2 separate regions of the Homo sapiens genome follow, and region 1 is linked to region 2. Evidence: fine-mapped expression QTL. Tissue or cell type: monocytes. Region 2 holds a variant in brackets; the other region holds the start of a gene. All regions are shown on one strand. Distances are from middle to middle.

Region 1 (5,152 bases), 700 kb after region 2:
GGGTAGTGTGAGTATGACTTTAGTGCGGCCCTGTGCAGCTAACTTCTGGAGCGTGAAAGTCAATATAAAAACATCGGCGTCGCTCAGGGTGATAATAAACACCATCATTTACCGGGCAGCCAGTGCCAGGCAGCACAAACAAAAAGGAAACGTACTAAATGCACACAACTGGGACAGGGCTGGGGATGCAGTCCCTCCCCCCACTGATGTGGGTGGTGCAAAACTCTGGCCACCAGGAACCAGAAACCGGATTCGCTCTGAGCACTAGTTTAAACTCCTGGTCCCACATCGGTGCAGACCTAGGCATAATAATCACTGTTCCATGGATGAAGGGCTGTTTCTTTGAGACGGAGTCTTGCTCTGTCATCCAGGCTGGAGTGCAGTGGTGTGATCTCGGCTCACTGCAAGCTCCGCCTCCCGGGTTCACACCATTCTCCTGCCTCAGCCTCTCAAGGAACTGGGACTACAGGCACCCGCCACCCCACACCCGGCTAATTTTTTCGTATTTTTAGTAGAGACGGGGTTTCACCGTGTTGGCCAGGATGGTCTCGATCTCCTGATCTCGTGGTCCACCTGCCTCGGCCTCCCCAAGTGCCGGGATTACAGCCGTTGAGTCACTGCACCCTGCCACGGGTAATTATTTGGTTACAAGTATTACTGAATACTGACCTAACTCCCTCAAATCTAAAGGGTTTTTTTTTTTTTTGAGACGGAGTCTTGCTCTGTCGTACAGGCTGGAGTGCAGTGGCATTATCTTGGCTCGCTGCCACCTCTGCCTCTGGGTTCAAGTGATTCTCCTGTCTCAGCCTCTCCAAGTAGCTGGGACTACAGGCACACACCACCACGCCTGGCTAATTTTTGCATTTTTAGTAGAGACGGGGGTTTCACCATGTTGGCCAGGCTGGTCTCGAACTCTTGACCTCACGTGACTCGCCCACCTCAGCCTCCCAAAGTGCCGTGATTACAGGTGTGAGCCACCACGCCCGGCCAATCTAAAGGGTTTTTATTTTTAGCAAGTTGGAGCAATTCTTTTACTTAGTATTTATTCAATATAGTATTTGTCTTCACTTGATCATAGCCAAAAGGCTGAGAAGCAATATAGTATTGGTCTTAACAGTCATGGCACACATATTCTCTTCTACTTCTCTGGCGAGGCTGTGCCACAGAGGGGCTCATCATACAGAAAACCTCAGGCATCTGAAGACCCAAACTTCACAATGCAAGTTTACTGCTCAAGTGGCACGAAAGACCTTGTAAGCTCTGTCCCTCTAATTCATGCGAGTCCCAATACCCAAAGAGTGCTTTAAAAGTTCAAAAACATAAGAAAAGTGTGCTCAGTGTTCCTGGCTATTAAAGCTGAGTCAGGATATCTTCGTCCCAATCCACTTCTTCCTACAGCGAAGCCCAGGAGCGCCATCCACCTTCCCAGGAGATAGAACTGACTCTTCCCCAGACGCCCTGGCACTTTCCAAAGGAAGTGGACTCACATGAACTAGTGGAAGCGCGGCCATGGGCAGGGCACAGGCCACACACACACCAGGGACACGGGCACACGGCCACACGCACAGGAGCGGGGGCATGGCCAGACACCCCCCACGAACACATCGCCGCACACCCCTTAGGGACACCCCCCCGGGAACATGGACACGCATCCCACAGACAAAATGGGCCGCACCCACGGGCACACCCCGCCCCCAGGAAACCCCCCACGGAACGCACCACACGGAACGCGGGCGCCCAGGCGCGAGGGAGCGCAGCCCGCCCTCCACACAGCTTTGTTCCCAGAGCCCGGGCGCCCCTCCCCGCCCTCGGCCTCGGTCGCGGGCAGCTCTCCACAGCCCGGGCCTCAGCGAGCGGCCCCTCGGGCTTCGGGCCTCGGTCTGGCGGCGGCGCAGAAAGGCGGGCGGCGGCCCCGAGGGCCTCTGTGAGGTCGCCCTGCCCCCCAACCCCACCCCAACCCCACACGGCTGGTGGACGCCCTGGGCTGGCCCGCTCCCGCCACGTGGTCGCGCTATCCGCCCGCCTCCCGTGTGCCCCGCGCCGCACCTGGAGCCGGCGCGGCCGCCCTCGCTATCCGGGACCTGGAACATGTCGACCGCCGCCACCCTCAGCTCGCCGCGCGCCGTTCCCGCCCGCCCAGCGCAGGTACTCAAGGCCGCCCGCCAGCGCCCATTGGGCGCCAAGACGCCAATCATCCCTCCGCAGCCTATCTCAGCGCGGCCACCGCCCCTCACGCCCACCCCCGACGACTTAGGCTTTGAACGGTCGGCGCCGCGCCCGCAGCCGATTGGGGAAGGCGACGCCGCTCGCGGAGGTGGGAGCTCGCATTGGGCGGCGGGCCGGGCGGGCCCTGGGACGGCCGCGCCCTCGGGAGGAAGCCCGGTCTGCGGGAGCCCGCGAGCCGACCGCGGGGCCGCACCTGGGCCGCACCTGCCCGACCAGGGACTGCGGGCATGGGCGCGCGGCCCTGAAGAACAGGCACAAACGACAGTCCTTAGATCAACATTAGTATGTATTTATGCACAATAAAAACATTTACAAGTTGAACTGGAAATTTAAACAGAAGTTTAACAGCTCTTATTATATTAAATAACCAAAACACCTTTTATTCCCAAAATTGGTAAAGAATAAATAATATAATTTACAATATGGTACAAAAAATAACCAGGAAAGGCAGGCATTCTGCTTTATACATACACTGTATATGCATATTTATAATCTATAAAACAAATTCATATCTGAAACGAGCGGAGGCCTCGCTATGGCTTAACCGAGTAAGAGAGAGAAGGGGAGCGGGGCGCGGGAGGCAGGGCCAGGGGCTGGGCTCCCCACACCTCACCCACCCCAAGGACACGCAGCCACTGTGACATCAGGAGAGCGCTGACAGCCGCGAAGGGTGTGCTGTGGGTTTTTTTCCTTCGTTGTAAATTACTCTTTCCTTGCTTTCTTTTTTTAACTTGAGACCCAGTTTCGCTCTTCTTGCCCAGGCTGGAGTGCACTGGCGCGATCTCGACTCACTGCAACCTCCGCCGCTGAGGTTCAAGTGATTCTCCTACCTCAAGTCTCCTCAGTAGCTGGGATTATGGGCATGCGCCACCACGCCCGGCTAATTCTGTACTTTTAGTAGAGACAGGGTCTCTCCATGTTAGTCAGGGTGGTCTCATACTCCCCACCTCAGGTGATCCGCCCGCCTCGGCCTCCCAAAGTGCTGGGATTACAGGCGTGAGCCACTGCGCCCGGCCTCCTTCCTTGTTTTCTTAAGACAAAGTGCTGTATTTCCTGACAAATGCATCGGCTAGAGCTCAAGGTTTAAAGAGAAAACACAACTGTCTTCCTCCTCCCTCATTCCCGGTGTCTTATGCCCCACAACTTTCTTTGCAGAAGAAATTTTGAATTCAATGCTGTGATCTAATTAAAGATGCTATTAAACTAAAAAGGTTATCCACCAGAAATGAGGCCACGGCCTCTCATGCCCAGAACCTGGAGGTGCGGCAAAGCAAGGAGGCCAACCGCGGAAACGCCGCCAACACCCCACTCCCTGAGCTGGCACCCTACAGCTACAAGACACAGAAGGACAAAACAGCCAGGAAGCCACGAACTAGGCATCCCCCGAGGCACGCAATGCCCGCTTATCACTGCACATCCACAACAGAATTGAGGCCAGAGGACTAACTTCCCTGGACCACAGATGCTCTGTCCCAATCTCCAGAAAAGACGAATCAACAGAAAGATCCCAGGCAACGTCAGAGGGATTCAGGAAAGCTTTTTCTAAGAAACTGATCTCATCTTAATTACAGCATGCTCAAATGCACAAAGGAAGCCACAGGCTCATACTTAGACGATCACCGCTTCTGTTGGAAAGGCAGAAGATGCAGGAAGTCTCTGTTTGGATCTTTTGAAAATTCCAGCCTTTAACAGTTGCCTATGTTTGCACATAAATATTCATTTAGGCCAGAAGAAAATGTATCCATTGTTTTTCTGCAACAAATGACACCATTTTCCCTTAATGTGGCAAGCAAATGCGTATCACCTGTCTAGTTACTAGAGAAGCAGAATCCTCTAGAACTCTTGTCAGCTTTATTACAGGAGAGGAGTCAGCCCGTCCTCCTCCCTAACCCATCTCCCCACTGGATGGCAATGGCTGCAGTTGGCTGCTCCCAGGAGTCTACGCTGGAGAACCAAGTGGTAGGTGCTGTCTAAAGAGCCTACGAAAGCAGACTCTGACCTCCAAAACTTCACCCCACTGAGTTGTCAGGGGCTAACAGGTACCCTGACAGGCAGTTCACAAACCCTCCTGTCCCTGGCACAGTGCACACAGCTCAGTGCTGTTGGGACTTGGCATCTCTGGTCTAGCCTGTGGGAGTATGAGAAAGCTAGCAGTGGCCTGAACTCGGCCTGGTATCCTAACCCTCTAGAGACGCAGCAAAGCCAGATGCCCAGAGGGAGATCTCCTTGTCTTCTCTGGCTCAATGAGATGCTAATTTTGGAAGCTGGTATACGTAGCACAAAACACAAGCTAGTGTAAAGATGCTGTAGTTCAAACACTGCTGTCTCTCTCCTAATCAAGTGGCATGTTTCTTTTTTCACCCCTAAGAGGTTTGGGACTGTTTGCTTAAGATCTCATGTCAATGTCTGAAGGAGGGAAGCCAGCTCAGGCAAGAGCTCTAAGAAAAACTCGTGAGACAAAAGAAGGAAGCTCTTGCCTGGAAGTTCACTGTCCTCTCCACGTCCTCCCAGTGGTGCAGTACACGGCCTGCCTGTGGTCTACAGTGGCTGTGGTGGGCTGGCAAGACTGCAGGACGGAGGGCGTCCACATGCTTGTCCACACCAAAGGCCTTTCCCTCCTCTTTTCACCTTCTCCATTGTGGATGGGGAGAGAAGCAGTGGAGGGGCCAGGGCTGGCCTTGAGGGCTGCAGCGTGCCACACATGTGGGGGAAGAGGAATGGTGGGGAGGAGGGAGAGTAGGTCCAAGGGGGTTAGGAAAGCACAATCAATCCCGGCTGCTGCGGGGGATGAAATGAGGCAGGAAGGGAGAGATGGCGGCACAGGCATGGCCTGCCCAACACCTCTGTAGCAGCTCCAGGCCACACTGGATGTGGATGGACGGTGACTCATGTGCCTGGAACTCCTGAGGATGAGAAGGCAAAGGGG
Region 2 (5,124 bases):
AAACTGTAAAACATGGCTGAAAGAAGTTAAAGAAGACCTAAATAAATGGAAATACCTTTTGTGTTCATAGATTGGAACACTTAATTTTGTTAATATGACATTACTATCCAAAGCAATCTAGAGGCTGGGTGCAGTGGCTCATACCTGTAATCCCAGCATTTTGGGAGGCCGAAGTGGGTGGATCACCTGAGGTCAGGAGGTCGAGATCAGCCTGGCCAACATGGTGAAACCCTGTCTCTACTAAAAATACAAAAAAATTAGCCAGGCATGGTGGCACACACCTGTAATCCCAGCTACTCGGGAGTCAGAGGCAGGAGAATCGCTTGAACCCAGGAGGCAGTGGTTGCAGTGAGCTGAGATTGAGCCTTTGCACTCCAGCCTAGGCAACAGAGCAAGACTCCATCTCAAAAAAATAAAAATAAACACAAAGCAATCTAGAGATTCAATGTAATCCCTACTAAAATTCCAATACCTTATTATTATTATTATTATTTTTTTTTTTTGCAAAAATAGGCAAGCTGATCCTAAAAATTCATATAGAAATGCAAGGGACTCAGAATAGCCAAAACAATCTTAAAAAGAAGAACAAAGTTGGAGGACTCATATTTCCTAATTTCAAAACTTCCTAGAAAGTTACAGTCATTGAGACATTGTGGTACTGGCATAACAACCGACATATGGAACAATGGAATAGAATTGGGAGTCTAGAAACAATCCCATATATCTATGGTAAATAGACTTTTTACAAGGATGCCATGACCATTCAATGGGGAAGGAATAGTCTTTTCAACAAATAGTGCTGAGACAACTTAATATCTATATGAAAAAGAATAAATGTAGACCCATACCTCACACCATATACAAAAATGTACTCATAATGGACCAAAGATCTAAATCTAAGAACCAAAGCTATGAAATCTTAAAAAGAAATATAAGTATAAATCCTAGACGATAATTTTTAAAATATAATAGCAAAAGCGTAAGTAACAAATAAAAAAAAGATAAATTAGATTTCATCAAAATTTAAAACTTTTGTTTTAAATTTAAAAATACTATCAATAAAGGGAAAAGACAATCCACAGAGTAGGAGAAAATATTTGCAAATCATATAACTAACAAGGGCCTAGGATCTAGAATATACACTTAAAAACTTTTTACAGGCTGGGTGCGGTGGCTCACGACTATAATCTCACTTAGCACTCTGAAAGACGAAGGCGAGAGGATCATTTGAACTCAGGAGTTTGAGACCAGCCTGGGCAACATGGTAAAACCCCATTTTTACAAAAAAATACGAAAATTAGCCAGGCAATTGGCCTGTACCTGTGGTCCCAGCTACTTGCGAGGCTGAGGCAGGATGATCACTTGAGCCTGGGAGGCAGAGATTGCAGTGAGGTGAGATCCTGTCACTGCACTCCAGCCTGGGCAACAAAGTGAGAGGTGAGAGGCTGTCTCAAAAAAAAAAAAAAAAAAAGCTGGGCACAGTGGCTCACATCTGTAATCCCAGCACTTTGGGAGGCTGAGGCTGGTGGATCGCCTGAGGTCAGGAGTTTGAAACCAGCCTGGCCAACATGGTGAAACCCTGTTTCTACTAAAAATACAAAAAAAAAAAAAAAAAAAAAAAATCAGTCAGGCGTGGTGGTGCACGTCTGTAATCCCAGCTGCTGAGGAGGCTAAGGCAGGAGAATCGCTTGAACCTGGGAGGCAGAGGATGCAGTGAGCCAAGATCGCACCATTGCACTCCAGCCTGGGTGACAGAGTGAGACTTCATCTCAAAAAAAAAAAAATGGAAAGAAAACAAAAACAAAAAAAACTCTTACAGCTCAACTACAAAAAGATAAAGAACCCAACCAAAAAAACAGGCAAAGGACTGGAATAGATATCTCTCCAAAGAAGTATACAAATAGCCAATAAGCACATGAAGAGATGCTCAACATTATTAGTCAACAGAGAAATGCAAATCAAAACCACAAGGTACTACTTCACACTAACGGCAATTTCTCAAAAAGTAAAACAAACAAACAAACAAAAAAGTTAAACATAGAGTTACCATCTGACCCATTAATTTCACTTATAGGTATTTACCCAAAATAACTGAAAATAGGTGTTCAAACAAAAACGTGAACACTAATGTTCATAGCAGCACTATTCACAATAGCCAAAGGGTGAAAGCAACCCGATGTCCATCAGCTGAGGAATGGGCAAACATTCAGGTGAGTAGAATGGATATTATGCAGCTATTAAAAGGAGTGAAGTACAAATATATACTAAAATATGGATAAACCTTGAAAACATTATGTTAAGTGAAATAAGCCAGACATAAAAAGCCACATATTGTATGACTCCATTTATATGAAATATCCAGGATAGGCAAACCCATAGAAACAGAAAGCAGATTAGTGGTTGCCAGGGACTAGGGGAAGGGAGCAATGGGAAGTCACTGATAATGTGTATAAGTTTATTTTGTGGGCAATGAAAATGTTCTGCAATAAGATAGTGGTGATGGTTACATGGCATTGTGAGTATACAGGCTGGGCACGGTGGCTCATACCTGTAATCCTAGCACTTTGGGAGGCTGAGGTGGGTGGATCACTTGAGGTCAGGAGTTTGAGACAAGCCTGGCCAACATGGCGAAACCCCATCTCTACTAACAATATAAAAATTAGGCCAGGCCCAGCACTTTGGGAAGCCGAGGCGGGTGGATCATGAGATCAGGAGATTGAGACCATCCTGGCCAACATGGTGAAACCCTGTGTCTACTAAAAATACAAAAATGCTGGGTGTGGTGGCATGCGCCTGTAGTCCCAGCTACTCAAGAGGCTGAGGCAGGAGAATCACTTGAACCCGGGAGGCAGAGGTTGCAGTGAGCCAAGATTGCGCCACTGCACTGCAGCCTGGGTGACAGAGTGCGACTCCGTCTCAAAAAAAAAAAGCACACACACACACAAATTAGCTAGGCATGGTTGCAGGTGCACGTAATCCCAGCTACTTGGGAGGCTGAGGCACGAGAATCGCTTGAACCCAGGAGGTGGAGGCTGCAGCGAGCTGAGATGGTGCTACTGCATTCCAGCCTGGGC[A/G]ACAGAGTGAGACTCTGAAAAAAACAACAACAACAAAACAACAAAACACTGTGAGTATACTAAAAACTACTGAATTGAATATTGTAAAATGAGTAAAATGATGAATTTCACGTTATGTGAATTTTGTCTCAATAAAAAGTAAAAAATATATAAAAATTCAAATACAGTCATTTGTAGAAATCCTTTAACTCAGAAATCTTGACTTAAACGCCATGCCCTTCACCCTTCCTGAATGTTTAAGGAATAGTGTCCAGAAGAGGTTTCAAGACTGACATAATAAAAAAATATATATTTGGTCTCTGCCCTGGTTCCTGGCACTGAGCTCCTAAAGCCCTTGTAATTTCCTGAGTGACAAAGCTGCTAGAAGCATCTTTTGTTCTAATATTTGGTCTTCGATTTGATATTTGATTTGGTTTCTTACACAGAATTCCCAACTCCCTTGGAATTTCCTGAGTGATAGGAGCATCTTTTTGTTCTAGGGAGGCAACTTTTGGTGGGCTCCTGGACTGCTTCAGGATGTGAGCTAGTCACCAGAAAGACCAAGCCATGGTTAGAAGCTTGGAAATTTCAGACCAGGCGTGGTGGCTCGTGCCTGTAATCCCAGCACTTTCAGAGGCTGAGGCCGGTGGATCTCTTGAGGTCAGGAGTTCGTGACCAGCCTGGCCAACATGGTGAAACCTCATCTCTACTAAAAATAAAATTTAAAAAATTAGCTGGGCCTGGTGGTGGGCACCTGTAATCCCAGCTACTCAGGAGGCTGAGTCAGGAGAATCGCTTGAACCTGGGAGGTGGAGGAGCCAAGATCACGCCATTGCACTTCAGCCTGGGCAACAGAGAAAGACTCCGTCTCAAAAAAAAAAAAAAGCTTGGACATTTCAGCCTCACCCCCAATCCTCCAGGGAGTGGGAGAGGGATTGGAGGCTGTGCTAATAACTGGTCATGACCACATGATGTAGCCTGCCTAAAAATATCTAAACTATGGGCTCTGAAGAGTTACCGGGTTGGTGAATACACTGAGGTGCTGCCAAGGTGGTATACTAGGACAGGGCATGGAAGTTCTGCACTGCTTTTCACACACCTTGTCCTGTGTACCTCTTTATCTGGTTGTTCATGTGTATCCTTCATAATACCCTCTATAATAAAGGGTTTTGTGAGCTTTTATAACAAATTATCAAACCTAAGGAGGAGGTTGTCGGAACCCCCAAACAACAGCCAGTTGGTCAGAAGTACAGGTAACAACCTGGAACTTGCAACTGACATCTGAAGTCAGGGATGGGGGCAATCTTGTGAGACTGAGCCTTAAACCTGTGGAGTCTGCATTAACTTTAGATAGTCAGCATTAAGAACTGAATTGTAGGACACTCAGTTGCTATCCGCAGAGTTGGAGAATTGGTTGGTGTGGGAAAACTCCACATACATTTGGTGTCAGAAGTGTTGAGAATAGAGAAACACAAGTTTTCATTTTAAAGACACTCCCAGGAGGTTGCAGTGAGCTGAGATCACGCCACTGCACTCCAGCCTGGTGACAGAGCAAGACTCCATCTCAAAAAAAAAAAAAAAAAAGACCTACCCTGAGTTGAATCAGAGAGCTGCAGTCTATCTCATCATTCCCAAGAGTGGATACAGAGGAAACAAATCCCTGTTATCCATCGACTCACCTGACCATAGAAAGAAAGATGTTCTGCTACTGTTAACTTATCAGATAAGACATCATGTTGGGGCACCAGCCCAGGCTCTTCCTAATGTGAAATATCTCTTGTGAAATTTCATATCCATTGACATATGCACATCCACTTGTAGGGGGAATAAGACCTAGAACCAAGGGGAAGACAAGATACTGAAGTTATCTTCAGTCAGAGCACACAGCAGCACGAAGGCCCGATGATACTTTCTGCTTTGTTCACTTGTTCTCACACACACTGTCCTTATACTACTTCTTTGCCACAGTCAGTGAAATCAGCAGCATCCAAGGAGTATGTATGTTCTATGCATGACAATGTACCAGGATGTGTGGGGAGTATTAGAGATAGGAGATATCCTCCCTACTTTT

Direction of the effects. Positions count from the first base shown, and alleles are read on the strand shown. Sizes are in standard deviations (SD) of each study's normalised expression.
With allele G in place of A in region 2, the expression in monocytes of the gene that starts at base 2,124 in region 1 is higher (moderate effect, 0.59 SD a copy in CEDAR).

Evidence for each region. PIP is the estimated chance that this variant, and not a neighbour inherited with it, causes the effect.
Region 1: it holds the start of JPT2, and the variant in region 2 is fine-mapped to the expression of JPT2 in monocytes (CEDAR, PIP 0.91).

The regions. Positions count from the first base shown.
Region 1 is chr16:1,675,251-1,680,402 of GRCh38, reverse strand. It overlaps JPT2 (Jupiter microtubule associated homolog 2), which reads right to left and starts at 2,124. Exons shown (of 5, transcript NM_144570.3): 1 at 2,047-2,124. The coding sequence starts at 2,090. CRAMP1 (cramped chromatin regulator 1) reads right to left here. Exons shown (of 21, transcript NM_020825.4): 21 at 2,495-5,152. RefSeq lists silencers at 1,708-2,067, 2,098-2,497 and an enhancer at 1,632-2,267.
Region 2 is chr16:2,379,190-2,384,313 of GRCh38, reverse strand. It overlaps the pseudogene ABCA17P. Among named protein-coding and RNA genes, the nearest start is that of ABCA3, 41 kb to the right of the region's middle. The variant A/G (reference allele first, on the strand shown) is at 3,075.